6 separate regions of the Homo sapiens genome follow, and all the other regions are reported to be linked to region 3. Evidence: microRNA targets listed by miRTarBase, many of them from high-throughput screens and not tested one by one. Region 3 holds a microRNA gene; each other region holds the end of a gene's coding sequence.
The links. The annotated mature microRNA hsa-miR-148b-3p reads UCAGUGCAUCACAGAACUUUGU and lies in region 3 at 1,937-1,958, opposite strand. An mRNA with a match to its seed (bases 2 to 7 or 8) in the 3' UTR can be bound and repressed. Matches are read on the target gene's strand: a 7mer-m8 pairs with bases 2 to 8, a 7mer-A1 pairs with bases 2 to 7 and ends in A, and an 8mer does both.

Region 1: miRTarBase lists TUBAL3 as a target of hsa-miR-148b-3p. The part of its 3' UTR that is shown has no 7-base or 8-base seed match.
Region 2: the mRNA of AP5B1 is a reported target of hsa-miR-148b-3p. Seed matches in the 3' UTR shown: 7mer-A1 at 516-522.
Region 4: the mRNA of SLCO4C1 is a reported target of hsa-miR-148b-3p. The part of its 3' UTR that is shown has no 7-base or 8-base seed match.
Region 5: miRTarBase lists KDM1B as a target of hsa-miR-148b-3p. Seed matches in the 3' UTR shown: 7mer-A1 at 3,704-3,710 and 7mer-A1 at 2,999-3,005.
Region 6: the mRNA of ERICH5 is a reported target of hsa-miR-148b-3p. The part of its 3' UTR that is shown has no 7-base or 8-base seed match.

Annotation. Positions count from the first base shown.
Region 1 is chr10:5,389,867-5,393,975 of GRCh38, reverse strand. TUBAL3 (tubulin alpha like 3) reads left to right here. Exons shown (of 4, transcript NM_024803.3): 4 at 1-875. The coding sequence ends at 459. Among named protein-coding and RNA genes, the nearest start is that of TUBAL3, 13 kb to the left of the region's middle.
Region 2 is chr11:65,774,480-65,778,479 of GRCh38, forward strand. It overlaps AP5B1 (adaptor related protein complex 5 subunit beta 1), which reads right to left. Exons shown (of 2, transcript NM_138368.5): 2 at 1-4,000. The coding sequence ends at 3,377. Among named protein-coding and RNA genes, the nearest start is that of AP5B1, 4.5 kb to the right of the region's middle. RefSeq lists an enhancer at 2,866-3,770.
Region 3 is chr12:54,335,127-54,339,235 of GRCh38, reverse strand. It overlaps MIR148B (microRNA 148b), which reads right to left and starts at 2,020; the gene lies at 1,922-2,020. The region is part of intron 1 of COPZ1 (coat protein complex I subunit zeta 1); the gene reads right to left.
Region 4 is chr5:102,233,081-102,237,189 of GRCh38, forward strand. It overlaps SLCO4C1 (solute carrier organic anion transporter family member 4C1), which reads right to left. Exons shown (of 13, transcript NM_180991.5): 13 at 906-3,938. The coding sequence ends at 3,778. Among named protein-coding and RNA genes, the nearest start is that of SLCO4C1, 61 kb to the right of the region's middle.
Region 5 is chr6:18,221,763-18,225,864 of GRCh38, reverse strand. It overlaps KDM1B (lysine demethylase 1B), which reads right to left. Exons shown (of 22, transcript NM_001364614.2): 22 at 2,011-3,956. The coding sequence ends at 3,873. It overlaps DEK (DEK proto-oncogene), which reads left to right. Exons shown (of 11, transcript NM_003472.4): 11 at 135-2,005. The coding sequence ends at 146. Among named protein-coding and RNA genes, the nearest start is that of DEK, 41 kb to the left of the region's middle.
Region 6 is chr8:98,092,886-98,096,994 of GRCh38, reverse strand. ERICH5 (glutamate rich 5) reads right to left here. Exons shown (of 3, transcript NM_173549.3): 3 at 3,386-3,774. The coding sequence ends at 3,662. Among named protein-coding and RNA genes, the nearest start is that of RIDA, 22 kb to the left of the region's middle.

The sequences.
Region 1 (4,109 bases), not on the chromosome of region 3:
GTGTCAGACATCACCACTGCCTGCTTTGAGTCCTCCAACCAGCTGGTCAAGTGTGATCCTCGGCTTGGGAAGTACATGGCCTGCTGCCTACTCTATAGAGGGGATGTGGTCCCCAAGGAAGTGAATGCAGCAATCGCAGCCACGAAGTCGAGGCACTCTGTTCAGTTTGTAGATTGGTGTCCAACTGGTTTCAAGGTGGGCATCAACAATCGGCCGCCCACGGTGATGCCGGGTGGGGACCTGGCCAAAGTCCACCGGTCCATCTGCATGCTGAGCAACACCACGGCGATTGTGGAGGCCTGGGCCCGCCTGGACCACAAGTTTGACCTCATGTACGCCAAGAGAGCATTTCTGCACTGGTACCTCAGAGAAGGCATGGAAGAAGCAGAGTTCTTGGAGGCCAGGGAAGATCTGGCAGCCCTGGAGAGGGACTATGAGGAAGTGGCGCAAAGTTTCTGAGGCATGTATGATGGGTGCAAATGAATGTCAAGTTAAAATGGCATGTTTTCTTTTCAAGCCGTTATATGCCTAGTGGGTAGTTCCCCTGATGAGCAGAAAAATGAACTCAAATCAGGCAAGACTCTAGGTTCCACACTAAATTAAGTGGGTCAGTACCAACAATGAACACATTATTTCCTGGTCTACTGGTACAAGTCAGCTCTGCTACCTGGGAGCCTTTGGAAGCTTAGAGTCCTTTGAACTGCTGAGTCACTTCTAGGTGGGATTTTTTTGTTTTACCAAGAGACAATGAAATCCTGAAGTTTATGCTTTTCCTTTCTGGTACCGGAAGTAGAAAACAGCACATGTTGATTACGAATGTTTTTTCCCCCATGTCTACATTTTTTACACTGATTAAATCATAAATATTTTCAGTATGATTCTTATTCTTCTTTGAAATGTGTGCCCAAAGGGCTCAGTTTGCTTTTTATGTAAACAAATTTGGGTCTTTCTAAAACTTGAATTTGGGTGTCCTGCACGTCAGAGGTGAGAGCCGTCTCTTCCACTTCCCTTTCCTGGAGGTGGTGTTCTCAAAGTGTCGCCCGCTTAACTCTGTGCCAGAGTCACTTCAGAAGTTTAGTAAAAATGCAGATCGTTGAGCTTCTCTATTGACTTGCTAAGCTAGAATCCTGGGGGCTGGAGGGCCTGTGTCCTAAGGAGTTGAGATATACAAAAACACTAAATGGAATTAATTTTTGCCACCGAATAGTTCCATTTGAGAAAATAATTTACTCTGGACAAAGCTATAAATGCATTAAAACCACTAGTGAGATTTTAAATAACCACAATATTTTGTCTCACTAATACTTGGAATTAAGGCAACTTAGATGCTGCAAAGGTACTGAGTTGGGCTGAGGTGTTGCTCTTGGACTGATGGTAGATAATCCTCAGGAGCCTCATCCACCTGCACTGTTTAACCTGTCAGCCCTCACCCTTCAGCTATACTCTTGGCCTCAACCGGGTACATGCTTTTGGCTCAGGTAGACATCGGAAGATAGGAGGCACTAAAGCCTTGGCTGGAGGCATGAAGTTGTGTATCTGTTTTGAGATTCCTCAAACTACAAGGCTACTACCTTCTTGCTTGTGCAACTGGACTCAAAAATGAATGCTCTGTATTGTTTTTTTTTTTTGGTAAGATCTATTTTTTGAGTATTTATAGGTTCTCAGCAACATTGAGTGGAAAGTATAACCCTCCATTTCTAACAGTTTCTTGGGAGATTCTTTTACATACTAAAATCACTCCCCTGAGATGTGGCCTTTAAGAGTGGTACTCAAACAATGTACCATTTTGCCTGCTTTCAGTTGAAACCATTCTCACCACGGAAGCCAATGACCACTGTTTGGTGGAAATGATATTTAGCTACTCTTCAATGCCAGTAAGGATTTTTTTTTTTTCCCAGCACAGACAACTATCGCTGAGTTTTTGCTCAGTCGCCAAGTCTCTAAGTATCTGGCTGTGTCCCCTTTGGACTCCACTTCCAAGCTTCTCTGCCAAGGGCTCAACTTCTGTTCACATGAAAACAACCTCATAGCAGGGTTGTGTTTGGAGCCTGTTAATTGAGATGTGCCAGGATTCCTGGTATAGTAACAGGGAAAGGAACATGACTGTCATTCTCATGTCTCTGACTTGATGGGATCAAACATTTGGAGGAAAGTAAGTTAAAAAAATTATTTTGTCCAAACAAAAGGAATGATTTGGTGAACTTTAGTGTGTCTTCACTATATCCAACATAGACCAACAATATCTAGAATTGGCTCTTTATTGAAGTGTGGAAGAAAACTGTTACTGAGCAAAAGGGCTTGCTGCCTAATGTGCTAGAAGCCAACAGTGTCACATTGCGTTTTTGAGAAAAGAAAGGCTTTTATTGTGAATTGACCAACAAGAAGATAGAAATTCAGCTCAAATCTGTCTCCCTGTGCTGGGTCTAAGACAGTATTTTTATTAGAAAAGCTTTAGTGGCTAGGTTCTGGGATTAGTAGGTGATTGGTGGAAGTAAAGGAAAGGTCTGGAAGGTCTTCATGCTTCCTCATGGGTTATTTCCTCATGCTTCCTCATGGGACGCATGTACAAAATGAGGAGACGTTAGTATGAAACATGGTAGAAGTTGCGGCTGCTACATCAGCAAGCTCATTCTGCACAGACTCTGGTTGGCCATATTGGTTCAAACCAATTTCAGCTAGTTAAAAAAATATCTTATAAGCAGAGGTAGTTTCAGCATTTTATCAAGTTCTTTCTTTTCTTATCTGCCATCCTGAAAACTCAATAATTTCTGTTAGTCATTGGTTTCTTCAACTCTTTGGAGCACAGTTTCAAAACCTTGTTCAATGGAAAGAATCTATACTATTATTATCATTGTTTTAAATAATGGATGTTGGCTTAGATTTAGCCTCCTAGTTTAGTTCTCTGGCACTCTTCATTCCTTCTTGCATTACTATGCTTCCATCTGGGATTATTTCCCTTTTGACAAAATAACTCATTTTAGCAATCTTTTAATGTAGATCTGCCAGCAGACAATCCTCTCTATTTTTATTTTTCTCTAAACATGTCTAGGTTACCTTCATCTTTAAATGATATTTTCTCTGGGTATAGAATTCTAGGTTGACAGTTACTTTGTTTCAGCATTTTGAAATACGCCATTCCATAGTTTTCTGGCTTTCATTATTTCTATTGAAAAGTCAGCTGTTGATCTTATTGTATCCTGGAAAGTAGTGTTTTTTGTTTTGTTTTGTTTTGTTTTTCCTTTGGTGATTTAACAGTGATGTGCTTGGGTGTGTTTTTATTATGTTCATCCTACTTGAACTTTTTAGAGCTATTAGAATCTGTGGCTTGATGTCTCCTATCAGTTTTGGAAGATGCTTGGCCAATAGTTCTTCAAATATCATTTGAGTTTTCTTTCCTTTCCTTATGTGACTTAGACTACACATATAATTCCTTTACATTGTCCCAAATGTTGCATGCACTTTTTTAAAAAAATATGTTTTATCTTTTTTCTACCTCTCTACTTCCAACTATATATTTTCTACCTTACATAAGCTTTGGAAAATACTATGTGGAAATAATTTGATCTGTTCTATTAAACCCCAAAGACATTTCAGTTATGTTTGTTGGTAGTTGTTAGATCTTTCTTTTTCATTGAAAATCCAATTGAACAGATACAGATCCATGTAATTTATGAATAATTCTATTACTGAATATTTTGCATACAGGCAAAAGTCCATTTTTTAGTAGAGTTTAAAGTAGCTATACTTTTGACAATTTATTCCAATGATAGTTGTAAAAACTATGAAGAGTTGATAAGAATGTTTGTGCTTGGCAAGACAGAAGCCCAGGGACATGAAATAACCTGCTTAATGTTATAAGTCCATAGGATGCATTAAAGCAATGAATTAAATATTGTTTTATAAATTCTATGTAACTTTCAGGGCCTTAGTTCTATTTATCTTTGGGCATTACAAATTCTCTATATTGTTTTTATTTTCATTCTTTTCTTATTTCTTCTATGACACTCTTTCAAGAGAGCAGAGCATTATTCTTAATGTTTGTAGTTTTGGCATCTGACACAGTGCCATGCATATAGTAGATAGTAATGTCTGTTGAAGATATATTGATA
Region 2 (4,000 bases), not on the chromosome of region 3:
CAGTTCACTGCAACCTCCACCTCCCGGGTTCAAGCGATTCTCCTGCCTCAGCCTCCTGAGTAGCTGGGATTATGAGCACGCCACCACACCCGGCTAATTTTTGGATTTTTAGTAGAGACGGGTTTCACCATGTTGGCCAGGCTGGTCTCAAATTCTTCACCTCAGGTAATCAACCCACCTCGGCCTCCCAAAATGCTGGGATTACAGGTGTGAGCCACCGCCCCCGGCCCTTGACTCCCTTCACATTTCATTAGCCAGAGCTGGGCTTGTGGCCAGACCTGCCTTGAAGGAGGCAAGGAAGGGTATGTGAACATGAGCAACGTCCACACAGGTGGACAAGGTGACCCGTGTGACTTTGGTTCCCTCTCTTTAGGAAGAATTTTTGGTTGTACTTGGGACAGTTACAGGCATGCTGCTATTGCCATGATCTTCGGGAAGCTGAAGTGATGAGCAGCAGTGTGTGATTCTGAGGACACAGAGGGCTGGGGTCTAGGAGCTATCTCAGGTGGGCTCAGTCAGTGCCATCCTCCCTTTTGGTGCCTCCCTAGAAGTGCTGAGAAGATGCAAAACCAAAAGCTTTTACTCCAACATTGCTTAGCCAAGCTAAGCACATGCATTCCCTATGATTCAGCAATTCTGCTCCTAGCATGTATCCCAGAGAATTGTCCCATGGGTCCATAGGGGCATATAAGAATGGCCATTGCAGCAAAGTTCTGGTTGGGGTAGGGGGAGCTGAAAGTCATCTGGTGTCCACAACTGGAGGAATGGATGGATAAAATGGGATGGATGCACAAGTGGGCAGACAGATGGGTGAAAGGATGGTCAGTCCTTACATGGACCAGTTTCCTTATTCTTAGGCTAAGGATTAGCATCTCCAGGCAAAAAGAAAACGTTTCTGGATTCCCTTGCCACTGGAGTTCCGTGGAAGAGAGAAATGGAGTCCACTAATGAGGTGTCCTTTGAAGGATATGGATGGAGGACACAGGGCCAAGGAAGTTTGCTCTGCGGGCCCAGCCTTGGAGATGTTCAGTCCTTCTGCAGCAGCACCACGCTTCTGGCTTTGTGGGTGTCAGGAGGCAGGAGTGGCAGTCCCACCCCATGTCCCAGGGCCCAAGCCCAGCTTCCTGGGTGCTTACAGGGGATGGCAGGCAGGACAGTACGTTCTGATCCCAGCTCCAGTGGGAGCTTCCTGGAGGCGACTTCTCCAGCCTTCCCATGTACTTTAAGTACCCTGATTCCCTTAAATCCCCTTCTGCCAAAAACAGCTGGAGAAGTTTCTGTTTCCTGAAACTGACCCCTTCCTGATTTGGAAATGACTTGCCGAGGTGACAAAGCAAGTTATTGCCACATCTCAAGTTTGAGACAGGCCTCCTGACTCCACCTATTAACAGTACCACTGTCCCAGGCCCTTTCTTTTTTTTCTTTTTTTGAGACAGAGCCTTGCTCTGTCGCCCAGGCTGGAGTGCAGTGGCGTGATCTCGGCTCACTGCAACTTCTGCCTCCCAGGTTCAAGTAATTCTCCTGCCTCAGCCTCCCAAGTAGCTGGGATTACAGGCGCCCGCCACCACGCCCGGCTAATTTTTGTATTTTTATTAGACACAGGGTTTCGCCATGCTGGCCAGGCTGATCTCAAACACCTGGCCTCAGGTGATCCACCCGCCGCAGCCTCTCAAAGTGCTGGGATTACAGGCATGAGCCACCGCACCCAGCCCAGGCCCGTCTTTCCTCTCCTAGTCTGCCCCAATCGGAAGGATCAGGAGGCGTAAAGCTGGCCCATGGGGAACCTGTGGCTGGGAGCCCATGAGGCAGGGGCAGCAGAAGAGGGCAGAGACGGTTGGGACCTCTGTGGCCCTGGCTGAGGTCTGCTCTGATGGCATGGTAATGGAAACCTGCTACCAGATGACAAAACACTATTACCAAACAGCTGGGTGACCTTAGGAAAATCACTCAACCGCTCCTGCCTACGGATTTCCTCATCTGCGGGGCCCTGCAGAGCTGTTGCAAGGATGAAATGAGGCAACGTACATGTGCCTGGCAGCACAGCTGACCCCACACAGCTCAATCCTCAGTGTTTGCATGTTTGGGAAAAAAAAACAACAACTAGAGGAACTAGTTCTTCTTACCTGGGAAGATTCCTAAGCACAAATTAGGTTTCTTAGGGGCTGAGATTAGAAAAAACTTGGTCTCAGACCCTAGACCTTATTAGCAGGCCCTTCCTAGAGCTGGCTCTAATCGGCACAGCTTGGGAAGCTCTCCACCTGGCCACTGCTGTCTTTCTGTTTCTGGCTTAGGCCCACTGGCCTGCCTGGCGTGAGCTCCCTGGGGCAGGGAGCTTGCAAACCTTGGGAGTTGAGAAGCGCTGGCTCGGCCAGGTGTGGGGGCTCACACCAGTAATCCCAACACTTTGGTGAGGCTGAGGCAGAAGAGTCATTTAAGCCCAGGAGTTCGAGACCAGCCTAGGAAACAGGGAGATCCTGTCTGCAAAAAATACAGTGGTGACTCACACCTGTAGTCCCAGCTACTCGGAGGCAGGCTGAGATGGGAGGATCACCTGAGCCTGAGAGGCAGAGTCTGCAATGATCCCTAATCACACCACTGCACTCCAGAGCGCCAGAGTGAGATCCTGTCTTTAACCCCTCCCCGAAAAAAAAAGAAAGAAAAGTACTGTCCAACAGGTCAGGTCCACACTCTAGCTTCAGCCTTCTTCCTAAATCACTGAGTGGCCTTGGGCAAGGCCAGACCCTCTCTGGGAAGCAGAAAGGAGATTTTTCCCCTGCCTCCTGGGCAGAGATTCTGGAGAGCACTAGTGTGTCTGGGTGAGAAGGAACTCTGTAGCTCTACAGTGCCGGGTTCTGTCTGGAAGCCTTCTTGGGGCCTATGACCCTGCTATGGTTTGAATGTTTGTCCCCTCCCACGCTCACGTTGAAATGCGATTGCCACTGTAACAGTATAAGATTAGACCCTAAGAGGTGGTCAGGCCACGAGGGCTCTGCCCTCCTGCGTGGACTCAGGCCGTTATCTTGGGAGTGGGTTCGCTCTCTCCCCTCACTCCTGTCACTCTGTCCTCTGTCATGGGAAGATGCAGAAGGGTCCTCACTGGGCTCTGGGCCCTCCACTATGGACTTCCCAGCCTCCAGAGCTCTGAGCCAATACATTTCTGTTTATTATAACTTACCCCGTCTCAGGGATCTTGCTAGAGCAGCAAAAACAGACTCAGACAGACCCTCACCCCCAGGAGCCTGCTCCCAACCGGGGCCCAAAAGAAAACAAGCCAGCGAGGGCACTGCGGAATGCAGGGTTTTGGCGACAGAGCTACAGGAGTGTGCCTTGGCCCCCACAAGGGCCACAGTCCTGCCCCCACCTGGTCTCCCGGGGCTCAGACAGCAGCCGCCAGCCCACGGAGGTAGTCCCCCGCCAGGGGCAGCACGGCCCAGTCATCGGTCCGCAGGGCCACAGGCACTCCATCTGCCAGGGCCGCCTCCAGCCGCAGCAGCAGCTTTGAGTCCGGGGGCAGGTGGATTGCTACACAGTAGCTGGTAGGAGGCTGGGCCACCACCACAAAAGGCTCCAGGTGGCGGGACACCAAGCCCTCCAGGCCCTGTGGCCCAAGTGGACACCACACACGACTCTCAGCACCCTCTGGCAGGCAGGAATCCCAGAGCTCCTCAAAGAAGCCCAGCCCGGCCCCCTCTGGAGGCTGCGGGAAAGGCAGAAAGAGGTCGGCAAAGTTCACGAACAGGGGTGGCAAGTGGGCATGGCACGTGAGACCAGTGGATGTGGTGTAAAGGGCATGGACATCCAGCCGTGCGGGGGCCGGGCATCGGGGCTGCAGAGGCAGGAGCAGAGGGCGGGCAGGGCGGCCAGGACACAGGCAGGGCACATGGACAGCCTCCAGGGGTGCATACAGCTGTCCTTCCACACGGAAGCGCAGCTCCAGAGAGTAGATGGGCTCCAGCGCCTCCGGCTGGAGCTTCAACACTGGGAGTGGGCCCTTGACCCG
Region 3 (4,109 bases):
TGTTCAGGCTGGTCTTGAACTCCTAGGCTCAAACAATCCTCCCACCTAGGCCTCCCAAAGTGCAAGTGTGAGCCACTGCGCCCGACCTACATTCCTTGACTTTCTAATCAACATTACTTACCATTGATATCCCTTGTGCTGAGACAAGGCTGTTGCTTTGCTACCTCTTTCCTGGCCTTATTTAAGAAACCCACAGTCCTCACAGGAGCCAAACACAAAAGTATGTGTTTGACAGATATCCAAGAGTGAGGAGGAAAAAATCATTGCCAAGAACCCAGAAACTGCAGCCTCTACAAACATAAATTGCCTCATGAGGCTTCAGGAGGTTTATGGTTCCATGCAAAGAATCAACCCTGTTTGCGGGGGCAGAGGAGGGCAGTTCAGAATGGAAGTAAAAGGAACCCAGTCTTTTGACAACAAGGTGATGAGGAACATAAGCTTTCCCTACTTGAATTCTTGAGGACTGCAATTTTTGTTTTGTTCGCTGGTTTGTCCCATTTGTCCAGAACAATGCCTGACACATACTAAACTCTCAATATTTGGTGAATAATTCAGAGAATAAAGGAAGTTTGAGAATAAAGTTAAAATACCTTGACGCAGTATGCATCTAAGGGACTACTTATAATTAGACCTCCACATATAAGTGGATTTTCTGATGTGGCCACTTTGGGTGATATTACTACCAACTTTATCCCTCCTCTGATAAACACTCCTTAGAGATGTCCATCCTGTATATATAACACTCTGGAATAAACAAGGCATGAGTAACTCCTCTCTCAAACTAAAGAACTTTGTTGCCTAGTGGAGGGAAGTCCTCTAGAGTCTAGTCTTAAAAGGTCACAAGTAGAAGCAGCTCTCCTAACTCCTAATTCCTCACAGAAAGATCTTCCTGTAAAGCAGGCTCAGTTCTATAACAACTTGGGTCCTCAATTCCAAAAGGGAGACAACAATGGGAATGAGTTTTCTTAATGGAAGAAAAGAAGTCCAAAAGGAACAAAATTTAGACGAAATCATTTTTTCCCACAACCTTTTCCTGGAAATCTTTGGCTCTGTTCCTCTATCCACATTCACAGCAACTTTAGAGAGCTGCCCATTAGTTTAAGCTGGGCATTAACCTGGCATAGGAAACTGGTTCTTGCAGCCATAGAGTTTGGCATCCCTAGAACCCAAAGAAAAGCAAAGCCCTAATGGCCCCCAGCCAACTGGGAGAGTCAGACAATGTCCTTTGTGGCCAACAGGGTGTGAGTGCCTACAACAGCCACACCGGCAAAGAGAGAACATATCCCTGGGTTCTGCTCTTGGTTCTTTTCACTGGCTTCCTAGAAGACATTATCAAAGAAACCCCAAAAATAGAAACATTGGATCTTCCTGGGAAGAATAAAAGACAGGCTAAGGAGGACAAGGATAAAGACTAGATTTGACATAGAGCTTACTGGAGCTCTCAAAAGGGAAAGAAGGCATTACAGAAAAGGCTGGTCATTTCAAACTTCCAAAGGAGGAAGCATACTAAATAAAGCTGAGAATTTAGGCAGGCGCTTAAATGCCGCTTCAATTCTCCATTCTGCTACAGCTGGAGCCAGCAGCTTCTTTACTTCTCCTGCCACCTCCTGACTGCAGCTGGTTCCACTTCAGCCTGGGGCTTTTACCTCTCAGGAGTGGGGAGGGCTATGCCATAAAACTAGCCAGTTTAAAGGCCCCAGAAGTCATTACTGATAATGTAATTTCATTTTAAGTTTTTGCAAAGGGCAAGTTTATAAATAACTCCCAGCTACTGAGAAATGGGCTTCCAGGACAATGGACTAGGCTTGACCTTGTAACACATTAAATGCTGACTGTTGAGAAAGACCTTATCAGCTTAGGGCCACACTGAAAGAATTTAAAAGGTCTATTCTTCCCTCCCACTCCCAAAATGGGTAGCTGCTAGAAAGCTTTCGAGACAAAGTTCTGTGATGCACTGACTTTCAGAGAGCCACAGCCTGAGTGTATAACAGAACTTCACCTCAAATGCTAATCGTGCTTGGAAATGATGTATAGGCAGATTGTTTTGTGGGAGATTGGGTGACTTAGACAGATTTTCATGTATTTATGTTTTTATTATCAAGAAAACAAGAATGCTGTCCTCAAGACAGGTGAAACACCACAGAACAAGCAACTAGGCTGCTGCAAATGAATCTTTGATCTCAGGGGCTTCTTTTTTTTTTTTTTTTTTTTTTTTTGCGACAGTCTCTCTCTGTCACCCAGGCTGGAGTGCAGTGGAGCAAACTCCGCTCACTACAACCTCCACCTCCCGGATTCAAGTGATTCTTGTGCCTCAGCCTCCCGGGTAGCTGGGACTACAGGCACACACCCCCATGCCCAGCTAATTTTTGTATTTTTAGTAGAGACGGGGTTTCACCAAATTGGCCAGGCTGGTCTCGAACTCCTGACCTCATGATCTGCCTGCCTCGGCCTCCCAAAGTGCTGGGATTACAGGCGTGAGCCACCGTGCCCGGCCTCAATCAGGGGCTTCTAAAGCCTGGTGAAAAGCATCAACATCTCCAAGAACTCTCTCCCCTAGCGCATAGAGGACTAGAGGGAAAGAGTCATTCCTAGTGCTGCCCCCTGTGGGCCTTCTCGGTGACCTGCAGCTTCCACAGGATTACAGTCATAAGCAAAAATATTTTTCAAAGGCAGCTCTGGATAAGAGCTTTTTTTTTTTTGAGACGGAGTCTCGCTCTGTCGCCCAGGCTGGAGTGCAGTGGCACGATCTCAGCTCACTGCAAGCTCCGCCTCCTGGTTCAAGCTCTCCTGCTTCAGCCTCCCGAGTAGCTGGGACTACACGCACCTGCCACCATGCCCGGCTAATTTTTTGTATTTTTAGTAGGGATGGGGTTTCACTGTAGCCAGGATGGTCTCAATCTCCTGACCTCGTGATCCGCCCGCCTCGGCCTCCCAAAGTGCTGGGATTACAGGCGTGAGCCACCGCACCCGGCAAAAGCTCTCTATTTGTGTGTCTTGTAGGACAAACTAGTAGAGATGGGCCCTGAAAAATAAGTGAATTAAGTCTGTTCACAATGTATATAGTAAGAGAACTCTTTGGGGTAAGATCTTAGTAAGCCACCAGAAGACTGGGAGAATATGTTTGGGGAAGGTAGAGAGGATACTTGGAAACTATAATGAATTATTTGATTCATTTAGGGGAAAAAACCAAGAAGCCTCTATGGAGGGAATTACAGGATGCCATCTACAGAGCTGAAAGAGCACAAATAAGAATATGGAGGCCAGGCGCAGTGGCTCATGCCTGTAATCCTAGCACTTTTGGAAGCTGAGGCAGGAGATCACTAGAGCCAGGAGTTCAAGACCAACCTGGGCAACACAGTGAGACCCTGTCTCTGCAAGAACTTAAAAAAAACAAAAATTAGCCAGGCATGGTGGCATGCACCTGTAGTCTCAGCTACTCAGGAAGCTGAGGCAGGAGGATCGCTTGAGCTTGGGAGTTCAAGGCTGTAGTGAGCTACAATTGCGCTACTGCACTCCAGCCTACACAAAAGAGTGAGACCGCCTCAAAAAAAAAAAGAAGCTGACTGAGATCACTAAAAAGTTCTTCATTGTCTACTTAAAAATAAATCCTTCCAGCCTGGCCAACATGGTGAAACCCTGTCTCTACCAAAATTACAAAACTTAGCCAGGCATGGTAGCAGACGCCTGTAATCCCAGCTACTCAGGAGGCTGAGGCAGGAGAATCGCTTATACCTGGGAGGCAGAGGTTGCGGTGAGCTGAGATCGCACCACTGCACTCCAGCCTGGGCGACAGAGCAAGACTTCAGATCAAAAAAAAAAAAAACATTCCCTAAGGCCATACCAAAAGGGCCTGATGTGGCATTACCCTGATGTGGCAATGGGTCTTGGTGAATTAAAAACTGTAACAAGATTCTCTTGTCTCAATCCTGTTTATAAAGTAAAACTAAGAAGGTAAAAACTAGAAGGAGAAATTCCTAGATACCACTCCCAGCTCCAAATGGCTAAGTAGGTATACTTCCTGACTCTGTGCCAACACTTTTTTTTTTTTTTTTTTGACAGAGTTTCACTTTGTTTCACTTTGTTGTCCAGGCTGGGGTGCAGTGGCACAA
Region 4 (4,109 bases), not on the chromosome of region 3:
AGGGTGGGGCCTTTACCAGGACTCGCTCTCTTCTGCCCAGAATTTCCCAGCCTCCTGTCCTTGTCACCACTAGTGTTATGATTGGCAAAATTATAATAAAATCTGTAGATTAGTTAATAGTATCATGCCAATGCTAGTTTCTTCGTAATTGTTTCTAGTTTTAGGTAATTGTTCTATGGATTTTTAAAATATTAACACTAGAGAAAGCTTATAGAGGAATTTTATGTGTACTATTTTACAAAGTCTAAAAGCACTACAAAATAAAATTTTAAATGGAAAGTCAGACGCACTAAATTTGAAAAGAAAAAAATGATCAATTCTTGATAATTTTTATAAGCTAAATTAATTTTAGCTGAAGCACTAAAATGTTATAATCCAACTTACCCATTGAGTTTTTCAAAGTGGATTATCTTTCATCTATTTTTGATTACTCATATGTGCTGTAAAAGTTAGTGTTTATTGGACTTTACTGAAAAAAAAGCTGAAGGAGCCTGGGGGAAAAGAACATTACATTTCAAATTAACATCTAATATTATTTCCTTAAAATATTTTACTATTACAATAAACTGAGATAAATTAAACACATCCCACACTTTTTTATCAGATAGTTTACAAATAAACCATCTGTAAAATGTATCCTACTTATATAAATCTTATATATTAATCTGTCATATGTAGAAACTTGTGTAAGAGAATTTCCCTAATATATATTTCATAATACATGTGGTTTGTATTGAATTAAAAACATCTGTTGAGATACAAGAAATCACTGGATTAAATTATTAATACATTCACCAAGTTCAAAAGCATACTAATTTCCCTTTCCCATCCATAAAATATGCTTATGTTCACAGAGATAAGGCAAGTTTCAAACCTGTGTCATTTAATAAGCTCAAACACGACAATTTTGTATAAACATTCTGATTTAATAAATGGTATGAATATATATTTTGCATACTTTACAATAAAGAAAATTTTGAAAGAAAATGGATCTAAAACTTTGTTTCCCTCCAATTTACATAGTAAAGTCAACTGCATACAGTTCTTTCCATGTGTAAGTTTTACATTTGTATTTTCTACAATTAAGTAAATCTAAATGTTAAATTTTAACACATATATCCAATTATGTACACAATTACAATGTCAATTTATAAGTCAAGCTTACTTAACAATCATAAATTACAAAAAACGCACTATGAATAATTTTGTTCTAGAAGTATCACATCAACTCATATGATCTAGGTGAACCCAAAAGTAAAAAATAATGATTATAAATTATGGTAGTGTCTGTAAAACCCTGTTATAAAGGAGGTATTCTTTTAAAATATGTACCTTATATATAAAAGCTCCTGACTCCTTTTAAGGACCAAAATTATTTTCAGTCTAACCATTTTCATTAAAGCGCTTATTTAAAAAGTATCACCTTATAAAACTGAGTATATAAAATACAATGCAGCCCTTGATAGCTAAGAATCTTTATAAACGCCAATGATTTAGTGACCTGTTTATCAAACTATTTCTATGGATGGGTTGATTTTTTTTCTTCCTCTAAATTAAGTGGCCCTAGACTAATATATTTGTTCAGTTATTCTGTTTTCTTCCTTACTGCCATTTCACATCTCCATCAGTGAGTTCCTCAGGATTTGCCTTTATGTTACAACTATGAAAGTCTTCAATCCAATTCCCTGCTTCCACACAAAGGACAAAGAAAGCCTAAACTTTCCTTTTCCTTTTTTCTGGGCTCCAATAGGAAGCAGCATTTACAACGTGTCTGGCTTGGTGGGAGGAAGATTGTCAATTGAGGTATCATGTGTGTTCACCTGCCTCTCTTGCCCTATTTCTTTGGTTGCTATAAATTTCCTGCTTCTCAAATATCTGGATTTTTGGCTACCTATTTGGCTTCCGTCTTTGGTGTTTATATCTGTCTGGTTTTAGCAGGTCTCTCTGATTCCTGACCCACAGCTCCTCTCCTTCTCTAATATTCAAGTATGCTGCTTCCCTAACTCCTCATTCCTTCTCCTTGAATTTCACTTTACAATTGCGCTAGGTTCTAACATCGTTGGCCATAGATTACCACAAAACATAATTTCTTAAATTCTGCAAATTTCTAATGTTTCTAATCTTGGTTTCCTACAAGATCTAACACTAAGCTTGTGTTATCCTGATTACAGTGTATATAAAACAATGCTTGTGGAAAATTAACCTAGGAGAAAGCTTATAGGGGAAACCTGATGATGAATTTTATTAAATTAATAACCCTTATAACAATTTCAAATGTAATACTATCTGGATTTGAACTTCAATACTTTTCCTAAGTAAAATTCTTAACCATGGTAGAAGTTATGTTTGTTGATGTTCACTCATCTATACCCTCCATATTCTCAGCAAAGTTGGCATAAATCTGACCTGAATAAACAGGGTTATAACATTATCAGGCTTGTAAAATACTTTATCAAATCAATGCATCAGTTAAAGCAGGGGTCCCCAGCCCTGGGCTGTGTGTGGCCTGTTAGGAATCGGGCCACACAGTTGGTGAGCTGAGAGGCAGGTGAGTGAGCATTACTGCCTGAGCTCCACCTCTTGTTAGATCAGTAGTGGCATTAGATTCTCATAGGAGTGCACACTCCATTGGGAACTGCACATGCAAGGGATCTAGGTTGCACTCTCCTTATGAGAATCTAACTAATGCCTGATGGTCTGAGGTGGAGCAGTTTCATCTCAAAACCATACCTTCTTCCCCCATGGAAAAATTGTCTTCCACAAAAATGGTCCCTGATGCAAAAAAGGTTGGGGACTGCTGAGTTAAAGGGTAGGGTTTAATATTCTAATTAAACAATAATAATAGATGACTACACTATGCAAGGCACTGTCTTAGGTGCTATGAGTAATGTGTTAAGTGGTTGGCTTTTCAAATAGGAAAAATTAAAGGTATATAAGTATTGATCAATAGTTTCATGTTTAGTTGGCATTTTTCTTTACTGACTGGTACTTTCCTCTGAAATATATGCAATTGAATAATATTATCACAGAATCATAAATGTGTTAAAAATTGTAATATCAACAAATTACCTCCTGGAATTCTTGAGTTAAAGTGAAAATATGTGTATACAATGCTGATGTTTCTGTATTCACTATATACTAAGACACAAGGATGATAACTAACATATTCTAATAGTTCAATAATTTGCTTGGAGAAAGGCCAGGCTAGTATACATAAATTTAAAAACAAATTACATGGTAAACCTGGTTTTAAATTCATAGGCTTTCAATAATAATTCCCGGAAATCATCACACAACTTTGATTAGTTTAAATTTTTATACCATAAATGTTCTAAGCTCAAAATATTGACAATGAAAATTAAAATTAAACAAGTTGTAATGGGGATAGAAACAACATTTTTTTTAAATGTAAATTTTTCTAATTGTGGGCCTTTTTTCTTGTTATTGCTTGAGGATTTCATACCTAGACAATGGGAATAGGAAATAAGTGTGTATGTGTGCGTGTGTGTGTGTGTGTGTGTGTTCGTGTGTGTGTGTGTGTGTGTGCTCGTGTGTGTGTGTGCTGTGTTTTGAGGCTTTACGTGGGCTTTGAAGGCACAGGTCTGTTTCTTGCATAAAACAAAAACTACATAAGTAAAAAAATACATTTGATTATAAAAACATCAATTTTGTAAATATGATTGTCCATATTGGATAGATAATCCTGCCATGGCAATGTGTGTTCTTAAAAATCGAGGTAAATTTTCCAGGTGTAAAACAGTCTTCTCTTTTCCCATTTCACCCTTCTTTTACTATTTTGTTGAGATCCTGTTCTGCTAAAACATTAGTCACAACTGCATTCTCTTTATGAAATGACACATCTGTGGCTGATGGAGGTGGTTTATACAAAAAGATTGCAAATCCATTGAAGAACATGGTGATAACTTTACAAGTAACACCTAAGTGAAAAAAAAAATTAATCATGTGCTTTTGTTTTTAATTATGATAAAAATTATCACTGAGAAAAATCTTCATGAATAGAACATTTTTAAAGAGAATAATTACATAACCATTATAGTTCTATGTTTAAAATTTTTGAAACATTAAGGGGAAAGAAAAAACATTTGTAT
Region 5 (4,102 bases), not on the chromosome of region 3:
GAAGATCAGCAGGTAGCTGTAATTCTGTATTGATCTCAACTGATTTTTGAAGGACAAAATAGTAAAATAGATGTGGAAAAAATGGGATAAAGGTTTATGATTTATGGCAAAATAATGTTTCTCTTTCATTACAGCTAATTTCTTGAGATAGAGGACAGAGAAGATGACTCGTTCCCATAGATTTGAAGATCTGATTTATACCATTATACCAGCAAAGAGAATGTATTTCCTTTTCTAAATCCTTGTTAAGCAACGTTAGTAGAACTTACTGCTGACCTTTTTATCTTGAGTGTTATGTGAATTTGAGTTTGCTGTTTTAAATTGCATTTCTATGCCATTTTTAGTTTAAAATCTTGCATGGCATTAATTGTTCCTTGCTTTTATAGTTGTATTTTGTACATTTTGGATTTCTTTATATAAGGTCATAGATTCTTGAGCTGTTGTGGTTTTTAGTGCACTTAATATTAGCTTGCTTAAGGCATACTTTTAATCAAGTAGAACAAAAACTATTATCACCAGGATTTATACATACAGAGATTGTAGTATTTAGTATATGAAATATTTTGAATACACATCTCTGTCAGTGTGAAAATTCAGCGGCAGTGTGTCCATCATATTAAAAATATACAAGCTACAGTTGTCCAGATCACTGAATTGGAACTTTTCTCCTGCATGTGTATATATGTCAAATTGTCAGCATGACAAAAGTGACAGATGTTATTTTTGTATTTTTAAAAAACAATTGGTTGTATATAAAGTTTTTTTATTTCTTTTGTGCAGATCACTTTTTAAACTCACATAGGTAGGTATCTTTATAGTTGTAGACTATGGAATGTCAGTGTTCAGCCAAACAGTATGATGGAACAGTGAAAGTCAATTCAGTGATGGCAACACTGAAGGAACAGTTACCCTGCTTTGCCTCGAAAGTGTCATCAATTTGTAATTTTAGTATTAACTCTGTAAAAGTGTCTGTAGGTACGTTTTATATTATATAAGGACAGACCAAAAATCAACCTATCAAAGCTTCAAAAACTTTGGGAAAGGGTGGGATTAAGTACAAGCACATTTGGCTTACAGTAAATGAACTGATTTTTATTAACTGCTTTTGCCCATATAAAATGCTGATATTTACTGGAAACCTAGCCAGCTTCACGATTATGACTAAAGTACCAGATTATAATGCCAGAATATAATGTGCAGGCAATCGTGGATGTCTCTGACAAAGTGTGTCTCAAAAATAATATACTTTTACATTAAAGAAATTTAATGTTTCTCTGGAGTTGGGGCTCTTGGCTTTCAGAGTTTGGTTAATCAGTGTTGATTCTAGATGATCAACATAATGGACCACTCCTGAATGAGACTTAATTTTGTCTTTCAAATTTACTGTCTTAAATCAGTTTATTAAATCTGAATTTTAAAACATGCTGTTTATGACACAATGACACATTTGTTGCACCAATTAAGTGTTGAAAAATATCTTTGCATCATAGAACAGAAATATATAAAAATATATGTTGAATGTTAACAGGTATTTTCACAGGTTTGTTTCTTGATAGTTACTCAGACACTAGGGAAAGGTAAATACAAGTGAACAAAATAAGCAACTAAATGAGACCTAATAATTGGCCTTCGATTTTAAATATTTGTTCTTATAAACCTTGTCAATAAAAATAAATCTAAATCACTGGTGTTTTAAGTCACTTGCATTTGATATCTTATAGGTGTATATAGCATTTCCTTATGGGGAATAATTCTGAAAAGGGATTTTTAAATTGATTCAGCCCTATAACCTATACAATTTGGAATACTCTTTTGTGGTAATGGACCATTTTCTTGGAGTGACTTCACAAAACTGAATAATTAAGGTTAATTTTATGACCATTTGCTATAAAGAAGGTAAGTAGTCATGCATAGAGTATTTGGAAGTGAGGAAATGGAGTTGTTCTGTATGAAAGTTCTTGATGAGTACGCACACTTATTAAATGGATGTATCACCACTACAGTACAGAGTACATGTGAAAGTCTAGTTTTTTATTAGTTTTACACAACCAGCTATTCATGAACTGTAGTTAAAACATTGTAAATCTGTATATTTACTGCTACTCAATTACAAAATCTTCAGATGGCATTGAAAAAACATATCCAAAGTAACTCAAGAAAAAAGTACCATGGCTTCTTAAACAAAAAATCAAATGAAGTATGTCACTTGATAGGAAGTTTAAAACACACATTTACCATACTTTAAAGTAGGTTTTCCCCTACTTGTAGCACAGTTCAAGTGCCTGGAAACTAACATAATAATTTACTGTTAACCATTTCAAACTTAACATTTTGCATTTATCACTTTAAAACACATGCTGTCTAAACATTTTAATACATGATACTTTAAAGCAGAATACTTGCCAGTCAGTACCAATGAGTCTCAACAAATAACCTAAATATCAGAGTTGTCTTGGGTTAACTTTTGAGATATACAGCTGTTGGCTTGTTTTGGGACCACACTTTGATTGGGGGGGGCGGGGGGCGGGCGGTGGGGGAGGTGTCTTAAATGCCTGAGGTTCACTGCACATTCTTGGTGTGTTAGGTATTTACTCGTTATAAACTGACCTACTTTTAAATTTTTAAAATACTCAATATTTTGAAGTCTCTTTAAAGTCATATTTAGTCCCTTCTTTAAAGCAAACCAGTATATTATTGTTCAAAAACAAAAGCATATTTCTAACCTGTATACTGAAGTTTCTTGGCAAAATAGGCATCCTGAAGACCCTGCAACCAGTGTTTTATTTTAGAATGAGATATTATTAAACTGTTTTCTGTCATGAGTGTTTTTAAAAAAAAGATAAAAGTAAATACTTGCCATGTTCTTAGGCCTTTAAAATATAGCTTATAAAATGTATACTATTTACCAGGAGAGCTCACATTTTTCTGCAGTTTTCCAGTGGACCTGCCTATGGAATACTGTAAAGAAAAATCTGCAAAAATATTCCTAGCAATTGAATCAGTGCTTTTAAATAAAAGAAGTGGAGAGGGGCTTGGTTAAATTATTCTGACAAGTTTTTTTGCTAGTGGTTGCCAAAATTAAGGATATTTAAAGTGTCCTATCACCCAAATTTGGCTTTAAGAAAAAGCTATATTCTGTGTCTATAGTGTGAAGCCCACACTATCTGTGCTGCATTCTCAATGATACAATACCTATCTGGAAACTTTCCTGTTTTGCCAATGGGTGCACAAATCTAAAACATTTTATCACAAAAGGTACTTGAATTTAAATTTCTTTTGAACACCCAGTAGGAGGAAATATGTACAATACAAAATACCTAGAAGCTTCATTTTACTGTCAACTGGAGTTTGTGCTGTATCCAAAAAAAAGTTCTATCTAAATTTTAAGTAAAAGCTCAATATTGGACCTATATAAAAATTAAGGCTCATTGGTAAAGATACTGATAAATTGTCACAGAAGAAAAACATGGCTTTATCTGGTTTTTAAATGATTCCTGCTTGATTGACTTGGTTTCTCAATGTATGAAAATTGATCAGCCATATAAAATGTGAAATCTAAAGGGAACTTCCAGCCATGGAACAATCAAATCCATGGCCTCAACTGAAACTTACATTCTGCTTTATTCTGAAATCCAGACTTTCAGCAGTAGTTGAACCTATGGAAAATGCAATTAAATCTAAGTGCTTATAAGGTTTTTTGAGGTCAGTGCTTTTAGAGTGATGAAATAGGTTTGCATTATCATATCGCCTTAGAAACATTTCAGTTTTACTATGTAGAGACGGTTTTTTCCCCCTCTTATAAAACTGAGGTTTAACATGTGATTCAAATTTCCCCATCTGGGGTACAGAAGAAAGCTGGGTCCACCGAATTCTTAAAATGCTGCAATCTTGCTTGCTTCTCGAACGCCACTCAAATATGCCCCTGTAACAGTTTGTGGGAAATGCCTGTTTGTTGCCTGTAAAACATAATTACATAATTTGAGATCATGCATAGAGTTGAGTTGATATCAAAAGGTAAAACAAGGTTAGACTTTATCTGGTCTAACATAAAGATTTGTGCCACTCCTGTGTGCTCATATTCACACTCACCCATCGTAACACT
Region 6 (4,109 bases), not on the chromosome of region 3:
AAATAAAATAATTTATTTATTTATTTAATGTAGAGACAGGGTCTCCCTATATTGCCCAGGCTGGTCCCGAACTCCTGGGCTCAAGTGATTTTCCTGACTTGGCCTCCCAAAGGGCTGGGATTACAGGTATGGGCCACCACACCCAGCCATTGACTACACATTTCTACCCTGTGGGTGCCTCAGGGGGTTGGCACTTCTGGCCAAGAATTTGAGTCTGGTCTGGGTATTTCCTAGATTTGCAAACTGGCACCCACTGCTGGTAAATGCAAATGTTCACTCCCAAGAATGAGAGTTGGGAAATTTGTTCATTTCCATCCCAGTTAGGTACATCAGGTACAGAAATAATGAAGTTATCTTAATTAAAAGAACACAACTGGACTACAAAGTGGTTGCACAGCACCCCAGGGATAGAAAAATCCAGCCCTGCTGGCAGTTTCTCTATGAACAACTCAAGCCTTTTGTCCATCTTGTGCATTTTGAATCTGAGGGCAAAACCGGTAATCTTCTTTCAGGGTCTGGGGACCTATGATCAGAATACATTTTGCTCTGTTAAGACTCAGTCTTGGGCAAAAGGAAAAATTTCTAACATAGGAAAGGATCAAGCAGTGGTTTTACATGCAGTCTTCACAGTACAGGGGCTATGTAAATTGTCATTTGTGTTTTAAAATGTGGATATGTAGACTGAGCGTGGTGGCTCATGCCTGTAATTCTAGCACTTTGGGAGACCCAGGCAGAAGAATCATCTGAGGCCAAGAATTTGAGACCAGCATAGACAACATAGCAAGACCCCATCTATAAAAAAGTCAAAATGTAGATATGTAAATATACACTTATATTTTAGCATATACATATAGCCTGGTATATACATATACCTTTTTTTCTGGAAGTATACACAAGAAATATTATTTTTTCATGGAAGGACTAAAGGATATGGGAAGGAAACTTCACTACCTATTTTATACCCTTCTATATTTCACTTTTACCATAGATATTTATTACTTTTTAAAATTAACAGGTTATTTTGATGGAATATTTAAATTTTGGAATGTTCAGATATTGTGAAATATTTAAATTTTCCTTATAGGTTTTTAATGTTAAAACTGAATATTATCTAAAAGAATAAAAAAAAGTTTCCAAAAGTGTTTTAGTTACCACATTAAAGAATAAAGACAAAAGTAGAGAAAGTACCAGAAATTTTTATAAATTTCCAAAATTTTATGAAAATAAAAGATTTGAGTCTCAGCCTCCTGAGTAGCTGGGACTACAGGCACATGGCATCATGCCCAGCTAATTTTTTATATTTTTTGTAGAGATGGGGTCTCACCGTGTTGCCCAGGCTGGTCTTGAACTCCTGGACTCAAGAGATCCACCGCCTTGGCCTCCCAAAGTGCTGGGATTACAGGCGTGAGCCACCATGCCCAGCCAAATTTATATTTTATATGTATTATTTTTTAATGAATTAAGTATAAATGGGACTCCTTGGTATTTGTTATTCATTTACTGATTCAACAAATATTTATCAAGTATGTACCACATTCCATTAAAGGAGCTAAATGCCTGAATTCAAAAATACATAAAACACAGTGCTTGCCTTCAATGCAATCACAATCCAGTGCCTTTACTTTGCAGAAAGGATGATGTCATCTCCTCAGGGAACTCCTTTTATTGTCTTCCTCGGCACTTTACAGTCAGAACATAAATTAATATTAAAATCAGAATCAAGAGAATATGTTTTTCCCTGTATCCTATATTCTTATAATTAATTATAGGCCATCTTAGTAGTTATTTTAATGTAGAAGCTAAAGTAAGAGACTAGTTAGGCCGGGTGGCTCACGCCTGTAGTCCCAGCACTTTGGGAGACTGAGACAGGTGAATTGCTTGAGCTCAAGAGTTCGAGACCAGCCTGGGCAACATGGTGAAACCCTGTCTCTACTAAAAATACAAAAATTAGCCCGGCATGGTGGCACATGCCTGTAGTCCCAGCTACTCAGGAGAGGTGAGGTGGGAGGATTGCTTGAGCCCAGGAAGTCAAGTTTGCAGTCAGCCATGATCACACCACTACACTGCAGCCTGGGCAACAGAGCAAGACCCTGTCTCAAAAAATAAAAAATAAAAATAAAGAGACTAGTTAATTCATCTGAGCAGTTACCTTAAAAATACATATTTACTTAGGAAATAGTAGGAATTTTTTTAAAAAAGAAAAATACCTATTTACAAACAAGATAAATAAACAAAATGTTTCCAGAATTCTATTCTGATACTCAAACACACAAGACACTCACTGGTAGGCAAGTTAGCTATTATTTTTATTATTCACATACAATCATTTGCCAAAATCCCTTGCCAACTTCAGAAGAATTCTCAAAAACTGACTCTGTGGTGCATCACTAAAGAAATCTCATAAATGCTTCTAAAATCTTGATTTCTTAGCCTTTTTCCATCACTAAAGCCTACCATTAAATTGCAGTCATCTAAAAAAGAATAGAGTGGCCAGGTGCAATGGCTCACACATGTAATCCCAGCACTTTGGGAGGCGGATCACAAGGTCAGGAGTTCAAGACCTGCCTGGCCAGCATAGTGAATTCCCATCTGTACCAAAAATACAAAAATTATCTGGGCATGGTAGCAAGCACCTGTAATCCTAGCTACTCGGGAGGCTAAGGCAGGAGAATTGTTTGATCCCAGGAGGCAGAGGTTGCAGTGAGCCGAGATCGCACCACTGCACGCCAGCCTAGGTGACGGAGCAAGACTCCATGTCCAAAAAAAAAAGAAAAAAAGAGTAGAGCCCAGGAATAGACTCTACATAAGCAACAATCTAGGTTTTAATCCTTGCTGTTTATTGTCTCCAAAATACATTTAAAAGTGAATTAATTAAAAATACTTTTAATGTTATTCAAAAGGATAACACCAATTGAAAAACCTCATGTGAGTATAAAATCAACAGCTGATTCGAAATGGCACATGGAAAATGTGTAGCCTTTCATCATGAAAAATGTCTAACCTTGTGATAGCACCAGAGTTGCAATCCTTTGCAAAGGATTCTGTTAACATATTTAATATTCCATGATAAATAAGGATCTGTGGTAGTTGACAAGCTTAAAGGAGAGCAAATGTGTAGATGACATACTTCCTAAGGTTCTTATCAGCTCTGAATTCTATAACAAGACAGAAATATTTGGTATAGTTCATCCTATTATTTTTGCTGTTGTTCATTCTCATTCCATCATGATTATAATTGTGTGACTTTATTATTGTGAGTTCCCTAAAATTTGCTAACTCCTTTCTCTAGCCACTTGTACCTAAAGGTTTACACTTTCTTTTTAGGGTCTCATTTTCTATACTGAATGGCCCCATGGCCACAATGAAGAAAGTCACCCTCACACTCTTAAATAATCACATCATTTTTATTGGCTTTGGTTTTTATACTTTTAAATGTATAACCATTCTAAGTAGCTAAGAAAACTGTTCATGGCTTAGCAGTTTTGCAGAACAATATAATCAAGAACACAGAAACATCCTTCTCATGGTTCCAACAGTCTCTCTATAACCACACTCCTTACAGAAAACATGTAAATGTAGAAAGATAAGATACATAACCACAAGCTTCACTACCATTTTTGTCTCCTCTATGATAACACACTGTGTCGGTTCACTCTTCTATCTATGTGGCTGCTGAAAGGTCCACCACTTCTCCTGTTTCTTCTTCTTTGGTTTCAGCCCCTTCACTCACTTTCTCATTCTCCATGTCTGTTTCCACCTTTTCCCCTGTCTCACCTGGAAAAGTAACCAAAGGAGATACTAAGAGACATTTATTTAGAATTAACATAAATTATCCCACAGTTTGTCTCCAATGGGGGCAGTTCTTGATCTTCAGGTCTAAGCAGTAAGTTTCTCTGGGGGTATCAAGAAAAGTAATCATCTCAGCTGGGCACCGTGGCTAACACCTGTAATCCAACACATTGGGAGGCCAAGGAAGGCGGATTGCCTGAGGTCAGGAGTTCAGGAGCCTAGCCCAAAGTAATGAAACCCCGTCTCTACTAAAAATACAAAAATTAGCTAGGCATGGTGGCACAAGCCTGTAATCCCAGCTACTCGGGGGGCTGAGGCAA